Regions from separate parts of the Homo sapiens genome. Here region 2 is linked to region 1. Evidence: fine-mapped expression QTL. A gene starts in region 1. The other region holds a variant in brackets. All regions are shown on one strand. Distances are from middle to middle. Region 1 holds the start of VASP (vasodilator stimulated phosphoprotein). Region 2 has its middle 31 kb from the start of VASP.

What was found. PIP is the estimated chance that this variant, and not a neighbour inherited with it, causes the effect. A credible set is the group of variants that fine-mapping cannot tell apart.
Region 2: its variant is the best candidate, but not a certain one, in a credible set for the expression of VASP in whole blood (TOPMed, PIP 0.88).

The regions. Positions count from the first base shown.
Region 1 is chr19:45,505,983-45,508,886 of GRCh38, reverse strand. It overlaps VASP (vasodilator stimulated phosphoprotein), which reads right to left and starts at 1,408. Exons shown (of 13, transcript NM_003370.4): 1 at 1,111-1,408. The coding sequence starts at 1,115. It overlaps LOC107985314 (a long non-coding RNA gene), which reads left to right and starts at 1,513. Exons shown (of 2, transcript XR_007067269.1): 1 at 1,513-2,202. RefSeq lists silencers at 284-483, 1,078-1,257, 1,938-2,067, 2,098-2,347 and enhancers at 1,408-1,677, 959-1,743.
Region 2 is chr19:45,537,490-45,540,393 of GRCh38, reverse strand. It overlaps a transcript of OPA3 not described here. Among named protein-coding and RNA genes, the nearest start is that of VASP, 31 kb to the right of the region's middle. The variant C/T (reference allele first, on the strand shown) is at 1,407.

The DNA of each region.
Region 1 (2,904 bases):
GCCCTCAGGTGAGCCCAGGAGTTCGGGGGAGGCCCCGGCCAGACCAAATCCCTGGGTCCCTTGGGCCGCCACCCCCAGGATTAAATTCCTGGGAAGATAGCTGGAATTATCTGGGAAGCCTGGGTCCCTAGGGAAGAGGGCTATGACCTTGAAGCTTTCCAGCTCCCCCTCCTCCAACCCCAAGGCTCCGGGTGGATAGGGGGACGGTGAGCAAAGGGGGAGGGGCCGTGGTGGGGAAGGCAGCCGGCCTACAGCGCTTGGTGCCCGCCCCCCACACCAGCTGTCTCGACAGGTGAGTCAGGAAGACAAAGGCCCCCTTCCCCCAGCTGCCGCGCCCCCTCCCTCTCCAGGGCCGCGCAGGTGGGGGAGCCGGGCCGCCCTTATGGCCGGAGGCGGGGAGCCGCCCTCTGCTCCGAGCGCCCGCTCGGTCCTAGGCACGGCCAGTTAAGCAGATTGTGTGCGGAGCGACGGGGAAGGGGGGGGTCCCACCAGACTCTGGAGGCTGCGTCCAGGTCCCTGGATCGGTTCACACCAGCCTCCTCCACAGGAAGACCTAAGTGACCCCCAAAATCCAGGGGATTAAGAAGTACCCCCGAAGTTATGGAGCGCGGTCCCACTTGGGGAGACTTTTTCCAGCACCAAGTAAACGGGGGACCTGCACACCCAGGGTCTGAGTCTCAGTCTCTCTTCCAAGTCCCAGGGTATCCCAAATCGGTCCCCCACAATCCTTCCCGGACCTCGAGCTGAAGTCTGGGGGGAGGGGGAGGAGAGTCTGAGCCCTGCCTCAATCCTGGCATCCCTGCGGGGAGTCGCTGCCAACTTTGAGGTCCTCTAAAAAAAGTCTTAACAATTCGGGAGTCCTCCGAGCGCCCCCAAATCTTGAGGGCTCCCAGGAGAACCTCACCGCCACCACCCCCCGAGCTTGGGGAGTCAGTCGTGGAGAAGTGATCGACGGTTCTGGGGCGCGTCCAAGGGGATTCAGCTCAAATCCGAGGCTCCCAAGGATCTGTCCCCAAATTCCAGCCCGGAGCTAGCTGGGGGGGAGGGGGACAAAGGCGGGGCGCGGAGCCCGCCCGGGCGGGGACGGGTCGGGGGGCAGGTCCGGCTCACCTCATGGCTGCTCGGCGGGCGGGCGGCTCGCCCACGGGCTGGCTGCTCCCGGGGCGCCCCTGGCTGGAGGTTCAGGGGTTCGGGGCTGGCTCCGGGCTCGGCTCAGGCTCCCCCAGGGTCCCGCCCCATAGAGTCCGGCTTCCTGGGGAGAATGTGGACCGGGCCGGGGCGGGTCTCCGGGCGCCGCTTCCCTCAGGCGGTCTGATGAGAGGTTCCTGCAGCAGAAAGGGGATGCAGCGTCCGCTCCCCAGCGCGCACCCCTTGCCGGTGGCGGCTACAGTGTTACTCTTACTACTGTACTTCTCTTCGTTACATTTCGTTCCAAAATTCCACTCCCCGCACCCACAATGCCCCGCGCCTTAAAGGGGCCGCGTGCGCCTCCAGGCGAGGGGGTGGAGGGCGCTTAAAAGGGCAACTCTGCACCCTCGGCTTCCGCGATCTCGCTCCTCTCCCCAATGTTGTAGCCCAGGGGTGCACCCTGGGAATCACCCCCACCTGAGGGGCAAGTTGGTGAAGGGGAAGGGGACCTCCCTTGCTTCCTAGTTCGCTCCCACTGTGGGAATTCTGAGGAGGGTCTCGGAAGGGGCGCGATTTCTTTCCCCATCGACTTCTCCATCTCGTACTCCGCTCAATTTTGGGGGTCGAGGAGGACCCTCAAGTTAAGCAAGTGGTCTCAGATTTTCTCCCTGAAATCCCATCTTCGGAACACCGCCCCTCCCCAGCGTTTCTCTTCTGTCAATTTCGGAGAGGTTACTAAGGGGGCGAGACCCCCACCCGCACGGGAGTGGAAGTCGGGGGAGTAGGGCCCAACCCCTCTCACCCCACCCCGCCCGCCCCGGGAAGGTGAGGAGGAAGTGGGCCAAGGGGGCGCGGTCGGTCGCTGACTCACAGCCGCAGGGTCGGGGGTGGGGTGGGGTGGAGGTGGGGACTGGCGAGGAGTGCGGGAGTGGGGGGCCCGGCATTCGCCCGGGGTGGGCAGGAGGCGCCGGCTTCTTTGGTGTGTAAAGCCTCCGGCCCACGCACGCCCCGCTCTGACTCAGTTTCGCCTGCGGAGGACAGCAGGATCATCCCAGCCCTCAGGAGGGCCCGGAGGTGAGGAGACCCTCCCGGGAGCCCCCGCCCCCACACGCCGGCTCCGGGCTGAGCCCAGACACCCTCTGAGGCTTCCGCAGCGTGTCTTGCCGGCCCCGCCCCGAGTGACGTCACTGATTTGGTCGCGCCCCTTGGGTAGAGCGCCACCTGGCCCGGGTGAGGCGCCCGAGCCCTGGGAAATCAGTTAGTTCCACATTTACACACGGGTAAACTGAGGCCTGGAGACAGGGAATGAATCTGGCCTATGGCCCTCTTGCCTGAGCCCCCAGAACCCGGAAAGCCACCAAGGTCTGAGTGTAAAACCAACAATTCTCAGGGCCAGCTGACTATGTGAGAGAATCCACTTTTCCAGCGTATGTCCAAGCCGAGTCCCATGTCCGGATGTTGATGTTGTCCTGACCTCCTTTACCTGGGGAGCACGTCATCCTTCCAGGCCAAGCTTTGACATTAATTCCCCTCCCCTTCTCCACCCCACTCTGGGAGACCTTGAACCCTGTTCCTCGGAGGTTATCATTGTTTCTCAGTGTGTTTCCTCAGGCTGAGTTGTCTGGGAGAATGGGTAGACTAAATTTCTTTTTTTCTTTTTTTTTTTTTGAGATGTAGTCTCTCGCTGTCACCCAGGCTGGAGGGCGCTGGCTCGATCCCCGCTTACTGCAACCTCCCCCTCCTGGGTTCAAGCAATTCTCCTGCCTCACCCTCCTA
Region 2 (2,904 bases), 32 kb before region 1:
GCAAGGCATAATCTACACACCATGAAACTCACCCTTTGTTTTATTTTATTTTTTATTTTTTATTTTTTATTTTTTTTGAGACAGAGTCTCGCTCTGGCACCCAGGCTGGAGCACAGTGGTGCGATCTTGACTCACTGCAATTTCTGCCTCCTGGGTTCAAGCGATTCTCCTGCCTCAGCCTCCCGAGTAGCTGGGACTACAGGTGCACGCCACCACACCCGGCTAATTTTTGTATTTTTAGTAGAGACGGGGTTTCACCATGTTGGCCACGATGCTCTCAATCTCCTGAGCTCGTGATCCACCTGCCTCGGCCTCCCAAAGTGCTGGGATTACAGGCATGAGCCACTGCGCCTGGCCGAAACTCACCCATTTTAAGAGTACGATTTGATGATTTTCAGTAAACTGACATGGTTATGCAACCATCTCCACATTCCAATTTCAGAACATTTCCATCATCTCCAAAAGATCCCTCACATTCATTTGCAGTGACTCTCCATTCTCCTTCCTTCAGCCCCTAAAAATCACTGATCTACTTTCTGCCTTAATAGATTGCATTATTTGGGACATTTAATGTAAATGGAGTCATACAATGCATGGTCCATTTTATTGCATGAATATCTCATTCCTTTTTTTTTTTTTTGAGACAAGGTCTGGCTCTGTCGCCCAGGCTGGAGTGCAGTGACGCGCTGTCTGCTCACTGCAACCTCAGCCCCACCCCCGCCCAGTAGCTGGGATTACAGACATGCACCGCCACGCCCGGCTAATTTTTGTGTTTTTTGGCTGGGTGTAGTGTTCATGCCTGTAATCCCAGCACTTTGGGAGACAGAAGTGGGTGGATAGCTTGAGGTCAGGAGTTTGAGACCAGCCTGGGCAATATAGTGAGACCTCATCTCTACAAAACATACAGAAATTAGCCGAGCGTGGCAGAAAAAATAAAAATATTAAAACTTTTTTGTGATGTTTTTGTAGAGAAGGGGTTTCGCCATGTTGCCCAGGTTGGTCTTGAACTCCTGGGTTCAAGCGATGAGTAGCCTCCCAGAGTGCTGGGAATACAGGTGTGTAAGCCACTGCACCTGGCCTATGTTTAACTTTTTAAGAAACTGCCAAACTACTTTCCAAAGTGGCTGCACCATTTTACATTTCCGCCAGTGACATGCGAGAGTTTTGTTACCCTACAACTGATATAGTTTGGCTCTGTGTCCCAACCCAAATCTCATCTCGAGTTGTCATCCTCATGTGTTGAGGGAGGGAAGTGATCATGGGGGTGGTTTCCCTTATGCTGTTCTCCTGATAATGAGTGAATTCTCATGAGATCTAATGAATTTTAAAATGGCAGTTTTTCCTGCCCTTTCACTTCTCCCTCCTGCTGCCTTGTGAGGAGGTGCCTGCTTCCCCTTTGCCTTCTG[C/T]CATGATTGTAAGTTTCCTGAGGCCTCCCCAGCCATTCAGAACTGTAAGTCAACTAAACCTCTTTCCTTTATAATTACCCATTCTCAGGAATTTCTTTATAGCTGTGTGAAAACTGACTAATACAGAAACTTTGGAAGCATTAGTGGTTGTTCACTGTTTTGACTATAGCCATTCCAGTGGCTGGGAAATGGCATCTCATTGTGAATTTGACTTGTATTGCTCTACTAACTAATGTGTTGAGCATCTTTTCTTTTTTTTTTTTTTGAGACGGAGTCTCACTTTTTTGCCCAGGCTGGAGTGCAATGGCACAATTTTGGCTCACTGCAACCTCCGCCTCCCAGGTTCAAGGAATTCTCTTGCCTCAGCCTCCCAAGTAACTGGAATTACAGGCACACGCCACCACACCTGGCTAATTTTTGTATTTTCAGTAGAGACAGGTAGTTTCACCATGTTGGCCAGCCTGGTCTCGAACTTCTGACCTCAAGTGATCTGCCCACCTCGGCCTCCCACAAATGCTGGGATTACAAGTGTAAGACACCGTGCCTGGCCTCACTTGCTTTTTTCTTGAGATAGGGACTCACTCTTTTGCCCAGGATGTAGTGCAGTAGTGCAATCACAGCTCACTGCAGTTTTGATCTTCCAGGCTCAAGCAATCCTCCCCCCTCAGCCTCCTGATGAGCTGGGACCACAGGCATACACCACCACACCCAGCTATTTTGTGTGCGTGTGTGAAGATGGGGTTTCACTATGTTGCCCTCAAATTCCTGGTCTCAAGCAATCCTCCTACCTTGATCTCCCAAAGTGCTGGGATTACAGGTGTGAGACTCCATAGCTAGCTAGAATCTTTTTTTTTTTTTTTTCAGGTGGCATTTTTTTTTTTTTTTTTGATATGGAGCCTAGCTCTGTCCTCCAGGCTGGAGTGCAGTGGTACCATCTCAGCTCACTGCAACCTGCAACCTGCACCTCCTGAATTCAGGCAGTCCTCCCGCCTCAGCCTCCTGAGTAGCTGGGACTACAGGCACACACCACCACACCCAGCTAATTTTTATTGAAAACATATATATTATGAAATATTGCAGACATACAGAAAACAATATAATGAATAACCTTGTACCCACCACTTAGAATTAATAGAAATGAACATTTTGTCCTCTTTGCTTTGGTTTTTAAAGAGAGAAAGCTGAAGCTACAGTTTAGTCTCGTCATTCTCCCTCCCTGCTCTGGCACTCGGGAGGCTGAGGCAGGAGAATCGCTTGAAACCGGAGGGCAGAGGTTGCAGTGAGCCGAGATCGCACCACTGCACTCCAGCCTGGGCAACAAGAGCGAAACTCCATCTCAAAAAAAGAAAATAAAAGAAAAGAAAAAGATACCATCCTCTTTTGTGAGTCAAGTCCTTCTCCACTAGGTTCTCTACCCTTCCCCTTTTGATTGGCAGGAGGTATCTGTATGTCCTAAATTTGAGTTATTTGTCAGATTGATGTATTGCAAATGGCTTCT